Regions from separate parts of the Homo sapiens genome. Here region 1 is linked to region 2. A link means that fine-mapping ties the variant in region 2 to the expression of a gene that starts in the linked region. Tissue or cell type: subcutaneous fat. Region 2 holds a variant in brackets; the other region holds the start of a gene. All regions are shown on one strand. Distances are between the middles of the regions. Region 1 holds the start of CFL2 (cofilin 2). Region 2 has its middle 29 kb from the start of CFL2.

Region 1 (5,231 bases), 29 kb before region 2:
GGAAAATATCACACATGAATGCTGTACAAAAAAAATTCTCAAATGACCAGTGCAGAGATTAGTAATAGCTGTTTTTACCCTAGAAGTTGTTTCACATAACATTTTGCAAAATTTCCAAGGAAAACAAGGCAACGTTCTGTAATATGCCACAATTTTTATTGCAACGTGGCCATTTTTGTGAGGGTGGGGAGTTTGATCTCAAAACAATGTTCCATTTAAGGCTCTTTTATACAGAAATTGCCATCATGACTGATATTCAAAATATCTTTAGTGTTGCAGGACTCACATGGTAAACATAAAACTCCTACACTTATTCAGTAGTGTACACTCAATGGAAAACAAAAAGGCATTAATAACAGCTATTTCTTTTAAGAAGATATGCAGGTAACAGGAATGAACACTGAGGTACTAGGATAAGTTGATGACACAGTTAACAAAACTTAATTGGCATTCCTTTTAGGATATTAAACTTATTACAAAAAGTGCTTTTAATGCATAGTGTTATATCCGTGCTGCCATATCACTAAAATAGGCTTGCCAAGGCAGGTGAGGTGTATGAATGCTCAAGCCTCACAGAACTGCAATCAAGTGCCAACTATAAATAATACTGAAAAAAGTTGACCATCTGACCAGTGGATAATACTTTCAAGGCATTCAATTAGCTTATCCTTTGCAGTATTCTAAGCTATTCACATTGACGATCACATACATTGTAGTGCTTGCTGCAAGGGAGGCATATAACCAGTTGTTTTGGCTAAAATATGACAGGAAGGCATTCCTTGGGTTCTATATAAAAGTAACAGTATTCAACAGTCTAATGGCAATCACTGATAGGCTGCTTAAATAAATGATATTTCCTTCATTCATTGTGTTGGAAGGGCCCAGTGGAAAGGGGGAAATACAACAAAAAACCAAAACCTAATACTATTCCAATGGACTGAGCTGGAGAAATGGAAGCTCCTTAAGATCCAGATGGCACTTGACTGTCATTTTATAATGGTTTTCCTTCAAGTGAAACTACTACATTGCCTCCCAATTTCTCTCCAAGTGTCGAACGGTCCTTAATATCATCCAAGCCATTTACTTGCCACTCATGTTTAATACCTAAAAAGAAAAAACATTATCCTATTACTTTATTATAATTAATAAAGAATAATTTCTCTGCCCCAAATATTCAAGTTTGTACCTGTAAATTTCTTTTTAATGGCATCTTTAGAGCTAGCATAAATCATCTTGCTTTTTAAAGGTGCACTTTCAGGAGCCCTACAGAAAAAAAAAAAATTATTGAATCCCATTTATAAGAAAAACAAAGGTAAGACTGACTATGATAATAATAATCCTTGCATTTTAAAAGTACTTTTTTCTTTTGTTTTTACACACCAGAATATAAATACTAGGTCTTCTTTCTTAGACTCTTTTGTTTCGTATGTGGCATCGTACAAAGCATATCGGCAATCATTCAGAGGTAGCAACTTCACAAAAGATGTGTAGGGGTCCTCTACAGTATCACCAATGTCACCCACCAAGATCTGCTTTGCTTCCTCTACAATTATTTGTCTTTTGTCATCGCTTAAACAGAAGAGAACTGCTTTCTTTCTCTTTTTGATCTCCTCTTGTGTAGAAGATTTCCTTACTTTCATATCATTAAAAACTTTGATGACTTCATCATTCACTGTAACTCCAGAAGCCTGAAAATAAACACAGAACAGTAATTCAGAACACGTATTTTGGTTTTAACCAAAATTACTGTTTGCCTAGAGAAGACTCACTTTAGTCTGGACATCAAAAATTGCACCGTACCATGTAAGTCGTCCAATCAGATTTGTCACATTTTAAGAATCAGTAGACGATACAGCGAAGGAGTCTAACTCATCCTGCCCATTCATCCTTCTTAAAGGGGTTTGGACGTGGAAGCGAAAGGGACAAATACAAGTTGTCCCATCCCTGAAATGTTTCCTATTTCACTGGGTGATGTCAGAGCTTCAGGAGTGGCAGCAAAAATACCTTCTGTATTGTGTCAACTCGGCTGGCCTTAAAAAAACACTTTTGGATTTCAGTTAATGCTTCTACTATTTTTTTCTTTAAAGTCATCCTAGCCACTGACGTTTCCTCATAAGGAAAGAGAATCAAGTGTAAACTCCAAACCGCCCACGGCCCACACACAGCTCACATGCAGACACTCCAAAACTAACTGATCGAGTGTAAAAGCTTTTACGGCGAGAAAGCATTTTAAAAAGTGTTTTCCCTCTTCCTTAATCTCCCCGTAAGGGTTTTATTACAGGCCGTCCAGACCCTGACCCACACAGCGTTCGCAGCACGTACCAATTTTAAAGCCTCGCGTGTTAAGTAAAATTAGGAAGCGAAGGGCAAAGGCGGCGCGAGCGGCTGCAGTCCGCAGACCCTCTCGCGCCCCCGCCCGCCCGGCCCCGACCCCCAACCTGCGCCGACGCCCGGGCCCTCCCCGCCCCCCAAAATCCAAAGAGCAGCAGGGCAGGGCCTGACGGCCGGAGGGCAGGCCGGTCGGCTGGAGAGCAGCGGAGCCGCAGAGCAGAAGCGCCCACCTTGGAGGCCAAAATCAGGTTAAAATGGCGGCCTCACTCCCGGGGCCGTGCGGGGGGCTTTTCTCGCCTCGCCGCGGCCTCCCGGCCAGCGCGCTCGTCTTACCATAGTGCCCTCGGCTGTGGCTGCGGCGGCAGCTCGGGCTTCGGCTCTGTGGCACTGGGAGGAGAAGGAGGGGCGGGCGAGCGGGTGGGCAGCGGAGAGTGCGGGGCACGCCGGGAGCTGCAGCCCGAGGGAGGTGGCGGGGCTCGGCGGGCCGCAGGCAGCGGGCGGGGCGGTCACGTGGGCACGCCTGGTCCCCAGCCGGCGCCACCCGCTCCCAGGCCGGCCCTTCTGTCTCGCGGCCCCGGCTCCCCGGCTGTCCGCGTCCTCGGCCTGACCTCAGAGCGCGAGCCCTGCAGGCCGGGGGGGGCGACGCGGTGGTAGCGGAGCCCGGGAGCCTGGCAGAGCCGCCTCCAGCCCCCGAGCATCACCCGTCAAGCCGGTGGGAGAGAGTGCTGGGCTCCCAGAGGGGCGTTTCCACCGCCTCCGTAGGGCCCTGCGCCAGGGGTGGGTGCGTGTGAGGGGAACTCCTGCGAAGGTGTCTTTCCTTATTTACCTGTGGTTTTCCCGAAAGAGGCTGGATTTCGACATTTTGAGTCTTTTTGGAAAACCCCCAGTTGTTTAGAGATAAATGAGAATAAATACTACACGAGATTGCTCCAGTTGATAGTACTTAGCAAAAACAAAATGATACGCAGTGTTGGTAAATCACTTTTCAAAACTCTGGTTGAAATAATAATTATGATTAAAAAATTACGTGGTAGCATTCCTTAGTAATATCCTTTTACATTTTAGACTTCATAGGAAATGGATTGTACTCTCTCTTAGAGATTTCATGAAGCTCCAGCTATGACAGCTGATATCAAATAAGCCGACGCAGCCTCTTCTAGCAAAGCCCATATAACTGCGCCAAGGCAGTTTCTCTTTTTTTAATCTTAACTCCTCCATACCTCAGGGTTCTTCATGTGTAAAACAAACTGTTATTAAATTATCGTTAAGGCCCTTTCCAGCTTTAGATTTCAGTTTCTGAGTATATCAATGTTCAGTAGGAAATGGTGTGTTTTTGGTGGTCTCAGGATTGAGGTTAGGCAGGAAAGTCATGAGATGGTGTTTGCCCTAGATTGCGTGATAAGTTCTTTCAGCCCAAATTTACTGTATTTTAAATGGAACATGCTAGGCATTGAAACAGACCTATTTTTCTGTCTATATCTTGGGTTTGTTTTCTTAATTGGAAGATAGACTTCGTTTAGAGACAAAAATTGAGAAGGGATTTCCCAATGTCTAAGCATGAATCCCAAGCAAGTGGATAATACTTTATATCTAGCTGGTACATTACAATTTATGGAACCTTTCACTTTATCTGTTGAACTTCCAAGAAGTCATGGAGAATGTCTCTCCAGAGCTCTGATCATCTGCTATGTGTAGGTATTAGCAAATTCCTGTTCGCTTCATCTTGCGGTTACCTTCCCTTCCCAACCTCAGAGATTTGCAGCAGCCCCAGCAGAGACCAGGTCTGATGACACTGGGGCCTAAAGTGGGTGTCAGAACCTTACCCACCAAAGCTGGGGATTCCAAAGATGCTAGTCACCCCCTAGCTCGGACTCCAACCCCTTTCCATGCCTCCCATTCTCTCTTACCCTCCCCAAACAGAGATGGTAATTCACATGTTCTAAGATTCTTTTCCTGAAGTTATTTTTGTCTTGCATATATTTTGTTACATTATAATAACTTGTTTATGTCTTCTGCCACCCTACTGCGCTGTAAGCTCCTTAAGGATCTGAGTCCTGGTTATCTTTGAATTTCTGGAACCTGACAGATAGTAGGTGCTTAATAGGTGCTGAAATAATACATTTAAGATGCTTTAGTGCTGTAAAGAGAATGAAAAGGAAGCTTCTGAAAATTGTGAAGCCTTTCTACATGCCCTTGTGAGCATGGCACTGAGAATGTCAGGGCCAGTAGCAGCTTCCTGCCTTCACCTCTGTGAGTTATAACCAGAACTTACCACCACTTGGTAAAGGGGCAGCATTGCCAATCATTGCTGCATGAATTTTGGTCACTGTGTAGTGGAGGGGGATCTGAGTGTCAGATACCACATGTATTAGCGTTCGACTGTTGCTATAACAAATTACCATAAAATTACTTGTTTAAAACAACACAAATTTATTATTTATGGTCTTACAGAGTCAGAGAAACAAGTCTCTCTCTCTATATATATATATTTAAGAGATAGTCTCTGGTTCTGTTGCCCACCCAGGTTGCTGGAGTGCAGGATGTGATCATAGCTCACTGCAGCCTCATACTCCTGGCCTCAAGTGAGCCTCCTGCCTCAGCCTCCCGAGTAGTTGGGATTACAGGCATGAACCACCACAACTAGCAGAAATAAGCCTGATGGGGCTAAAGTCAAGAGACTGTAGTGGGAGACTCCTTTGCCTTTTCCAACATCTAGAGGCTGCCCATCATTTTTTTTTTTTTTTTTTGAGATGGAGTCTCACTCTGTCACCCAGGCTGGAGTGCAGTGGTGCTATCTCGGCTCACTGCAAACTCCGCCTCCTGGGTTCACACCATTCTCCTGCCTTAGCCTCCTGAGTAGCTGGGACTACAGGCACCCGCCACCATGCCCGGCTAATTTT
Region 2 (5,231 bases):
GGCAAGATGGCCAAATAGGAACAGCTCTGGTCTGCAGCTCCCAGCGAGACTGATGTGGAAGGTGGGTGATTTCTGCATTTCCACCTGAGGTACCTGATTTATCTCATTGGGACTGGTTGGACAGTGGGTGCAGCCGACAGACAGCAAGCCGAAGCAGGGTGGGGTGTTGCCTCACCTGGGAAGCACAAGGGGTTGGGGAACTCCCTCCCCTAGCCAAGGAAGTCCCACTAAGGGACTGTGCCATGAGGAACACTGCACTCCAGGCCAGATACTGCGCCTTTCCCATGGTCTTCACTTTTTTTTTTTTTTTTTCCAAGACAGGGTCTTGTTCTGTCACCCAGGCTGGAGTGCAGTGGCGTGATCTCGGCTCACTGCAACCTCTGCCTCCCGGGTTCAAGCAATTCTCCTGCCTCAGCCTCCTGAGTAGCTGGGATTATAGGTGCATGCCACCACGCCCAGCTAATTTTTGTGTTTTTAGTAGAGACGGGGTTTCACCATGTTGGCCAGGCTGGTCTTGAACTCCTGACGTTGTGATTCTCCTGCCTTGGCCTCCGAAAGTGCTGGGGTTACAGGCGTGAGCCACCGTGCCTGGCCGAGTGACATACATTTTTAGCTCTACTAAGAAAGAGTTCAAGCTAAGAGTCTTTGATCTTCTAGGATTTCTAACACATGTGAACTCTACATGCTTTCTGTAATTCTACCAGATGTAGCCAAATTGTTCATAGTGAGTCCATCAACTTATAACTAGCTTTAGTTACAGATCTCTTGCCTTCTACTATTATACAGGGTGGATTTTCAGATGCGGATGTTCTTTTGATTTGTGGTTTGCCCATTTCCTTCCAAGAAGTTGTCAAAAATGGCCTGGACTGGTGGAACCTTTACCATAGTTTATGCTGAGATAGCATTATTATGCCAGTTAAACAAATGCAATACTTTGAAGACTCTGACCTAGTTAGTTTAGACTTTAGAGTGAAAAAACCTGAAATGAAATAGAGGAAGAGTATTAAGGTAGAAGCATATAGCTTGGGGGAAAATATATCTATTTTTTCATTTTGTTTATTGTATTCTCTTTTTTTTTCTCAATTTTTTTTACCTCCTCTTTGACCCATGGATTATCTAAAAGTATTTTGTTTAGTTTGGAGATTTTCCTGTTATGTTTCCATTATTGATTTCTAGTTTGATTTCATTGTGGCCACAGATTACATTTTACATAATTTCAGTTCTTTTAAATTTAAGGTTTGTTTTATGGCCCAGGATATGATCTGTCTTGGTGTATGTTCTGTTGTTGTGTTCTGTTGTTGGGTGGAGTTTTTCTAAGCCTGTATGTTACTGGTTGATGTTATTGTTTAGTTCTTTTATATCATTGCTGATTTTCTGCCTAGTTGTTCTAGTAATTGTTAAGAGGGAAGTGTTGAAGTCTCCGTCTGTAACTGTAGGTTTGTCTATTTCTCCTTTCAGTTCTATCAGCTTTTGCTTCATATATTTTGTGGCCCTAAACGCATGCACACTTCAGGTTAACATTCTTGGCTGGGTGCCATCATTGCAGCACTTTGGGAGGCCAAGGCAGGTGGGTCGCTTGAGCTGAGGATTTCGAAACCAGCCTGGGTAACATGGCGAAACCCCATCTCTACCAAAAATACAAAAATTAGCCGGGCATGGTGGCGTGTGCCTGTGGTCCTAGCTACTCAGGAGACTGAGGTGGGAGGGTCACCTGAATCTGGGGAGTTTGAGGCTGCAGCGAGCTGAGATTGTGCCACTGCATTCCAGCCTGGTGACAGAGTGAGACCCTGTATTTAAAAAAAAAAAATCCCCTGCACTCTTATTTATTCAGCCCTCCCTACCCACAACTCATAGTTCTTGGCCAATCTCTCTCTCTCTCTTTTTTTTTTTTGAGACAGTGTCTCTGTCTAGTGTCCAGGTTGGAGTGCAATGACCAGATCTCAGCTTATTGCAACCACTACTTCCTGGGTTCAAGTGATACTTCTGTCTCAGCCTCCCAAGTACCTGGGGCCACAGGCATGAGCCACCACTCCTGGCTAATTTTTGTATTTTTTGTAGAGACAGTGTTTCACCATATTGCCCAGGCTGATCTCGAACTCCTGAGCTCAAATGATCATCCTAACTCAGCTTCCCAAAGTGCTGAGATTAGAGGTGTGAGCTACTCCACCCAGCCTAGATAACTTCTTTTTTTTAATTTTTATTTTTAGATGGAGTCTCGCTCTGTCGCCCAGGCTGGAGTGCAGTGGCATGATCTCGGCTCACTGCAACCTCTGCCTCCCGGGTTGACGCCATTCTCCTGCCTCAGCCTCCCAAGTAGCTGGGACTACAGGTGCCTGCCGCCACTCCTGGCTAATTTTTTGTATTTTTAGTAGAGATGGGGTTTCACCGTGTTAGCCAGGATGGTCTTGATCTCCTGACCTCATGATCTGCCCACCTCAGCCTCCCAAAGTGCTGGGATTATAGGCGGGAGCCACCACGCCTGGCCTTTTTTTTTTTTTTTTTTTTTTTGAGAAAGAATCTCACTCTTGTTGCCCAGGCTGGAGTGCAGTAGTGTAATCTTGGCTCACTGTAACCTCTACCTCTGGGTTCAAGTGATTCTCCTGTCTCAGCCTCCTGAGTAGCTGGGATTACAGGTGCATGCCACCATGCCCGGCTAATTTTTGTATTTTTAGTAGAGATGGGGTTTCACCATGTTGGCCAGGCTGGTCTCGAAATCCTGACCTCAAGTGATCTACCCGCCCTGGCCTCCCAGAGTGCTGGGATTACAGGCGTGAGCCACTGTGCCCGGCCAACAGTTTTGTTTTTGAACAAAACTCGAACAGTTTGTTCCTGAAAAATATTGCGCCACTTCTTTCTCCCACCATTTTCTAGTGTGTTCTAATTGATTTCCCCTTATA[C/G]GTAAAATGTCACTCATTTTCTGCTGGCTATTTTCAAGATTTTTTTGTCTTTAGTTTTCAGAAAATTAATTATGATGTCTTGGCATGGATTTCTTTGGGTTTATCCTTTTCAGAGTTTGTTCACCTTCTTGAATCTGTGGGTTGTCTCTTGGGGAATTTTGAGTTATTTCTTTGAGGGCTTTGTTAGTCCCACCTTTTTTCTCCTCTGCTTTGGCAACTCTGATGACATGAATGTTAGTTTTTTTTTTATTATAGTTCCCTAAGGTCATGTTCAATTTTGTTCAATCTGTTTTTTCTCTGTTGCTCAGATTGGGTAATATGTATTCTAGTTTACTGATTCTTTCCTCTCTCTCCTCCATTGTCCTGTTGGGTCCATCCACTGAGATTTTTCTTTTGGTTACTGTGCCCTAAATTTTCCATTTGGTTCTTCTTCATAACTTCTGTATTCTGAGACTTTGTATTTCTTTGCTGAGTGCAGTAGGCAGAATGGTCCTCCAAAGATGTCCATGTCTTAATCCCTGGAACTGTGAATATGTTACTCTACATGGCAAAATAAACTTTAAAATAATGTGCTTGAGGATTTGAACAGGGGGATTAGCTTGGATTGTCTGGTGGGTGCAATCTAATTACATGGGTCCTTAAAATCAGAGAAACTTTCCTGCTTGTGGTTAGAGGAAGATGTGACAGAAAGGCACAGAGATGTCATGTTGCTGGCTTTGAAGATGGAGGAAGAGGGCTACATGCCGAGGAATGTGGGTAGAAGCTGGAAGGAGCGAGGAAATAGATTCTCCCTTAGGGTCTCTACAAAGTAACAGCCTTGTGGACAAATTGATTTAGCCCAGTTAAGACCCATGTCAGACTTCTAACCTACAGCTAACGAATCTGCATTAAGCTGGTGAATTTGTGGTGATTTGTTATGGCAGCAATAGGAAACTAGTACACTGAAGCTACTTTATTTGTTTCAGGGATGTTCATAATTGCTCATTGAAGCATTTTCATCATGGCTGCTTTAAAATCTTTGTCAATTGTTCTAACATGTCATTTTGGTGTTGACATCTTTTTTTTCATTCAGTTTCAATCTTCTTGGTTCTTCGTATGAATGATTTTTTATTGAAATGCGGACATTTTCGTATTGTTATGAGCCTTTTATTTTTTGTTGCAAAAAAATAAAAATAAAGTCTCATAACAGTATAAAAATGTCTGGGTCTCAATCTGTCATTCAGGCTGGAGTGCAGTGGCTTGCTCTCGGCTCACTGCAACCCCCACCTCCCACACTCAAGCGATTCTCCCACCTCAGCCTCCCGAGTAGCTGGGACCACAGGCATGTGCCAGCATGCCCAGCTAATTTTTGTATTTTTTGTAGAGACAGGTTTTGCCATATTGCCCAAGCTGGTGTCGAACTCCTGGGTTTGGCCGGCTTTGGCCTCCCGAAGTGCTGGGATTCCAGTCATGAGCCACCATGCCCAGCCCATGATGAGACTTAATACCTTATTTAAACCTAGTTTTAGCTGGCTTTCTGTGACACCATTCTGGCAAAGAAAGCTGGGTTGCTTCCTTGTAACTGCCAGATACAAGTAGAAGTCCAAGTTCTCCTGCCAGCCTCTTTGACACCAGAAAGGGGGTGCTCCTTGCTATTGGTGGGCAGATGTGTGAATCAGCCCCCCAGACGGTCTGTACTGACACTGGGAGGGATTGGGGGTATCTCATTTCTGCCAGCAGGGATGAAAGGCCAGGTTCCTTACTTTGCCTTTCTTGTTCCTTACTTCTCTGACACCACTCCGGTGGGTGCACTGTACCGCCTCATTTTATCCTTCTGGGGATGGAAGTGTAGACTCCCTGCTTGTTCTTTGTTGGTGTGGATATGGGTAGGGCCAGGGTTGGTTGGTTGGTTTGTTTTTTGTGGTGTTTGGCTGGGATAGTGGTTATTGTCTAGGTTTTCTGTCTTATTAGGCTGCCCCTGTCCTAGTTCTTTGGCTAGAGAGGCTTTTGTTGTGGCTTTACACTTCGTCTGTGCCACTTGGCATTTTCAAGTTTCCGCTTCTTTAGCATCAAGTCTGATATATAAGTCAAAAAGAAAACCTAGGGAACTTACCACTGTCTTTCCTCTGGTCCCAAGGTCCTTTAGTCAGTCTGACTTATTGTCACCTTTCAGTCTTATTTTTGTTTTATATAGAACGTCCAGGGTTTTTAGCTATACTGAGTGGGAGGAATAGGAGAGAAGATGCCTGCTTCGTCTTACCAGAAATGGAAGTCTGTCTAAAGACCACTTATTCTTTTTTTTTTTCGAGATGGAGTCTTGCTCTGTCACCCAGGCTGGAGTGCTGTGGTGCGATC

Evidence for each region. PIP is the estimated chance that this variant, and not a neighbour inherited with it, causes the effect.
Region 1: CFL2 starts here. The variant in region 2 is the best candidate, but not a certain one, in a credible set for the expression of CFL2 in subcutaneous fat (GTEx, PIP 0.87).

What each region holds. Positions count from the first base shown.
Region 1 is chr14:34,711,874-34,717,104 of GRCh38, forward strand. CFL2 (cofilin 2) reads right to left here and starts at 2,720. Exons shown (of 4, transcript NM_138638.5): 1 at 2,665-2,720; 2 at 1,381-1,688; 3 at 1,187-1,263; 4 at 1-1,104. The coding sequence starts at 2,667. The coding sequence ends at 992. RefSeq lists silencers at 2,417-2,476, 2,567-3,156.
Region 2 is chr14:34,741,177-34,746,407 of GRCh38, forward strand. No RefSeq gene overlaps it. Among named protein-coding and RNA genes, the nearest start is that of CFL2, 29 kb to the left of the region's middle. The variant C/G (reference allele first, on the strand shown) is at 2,898.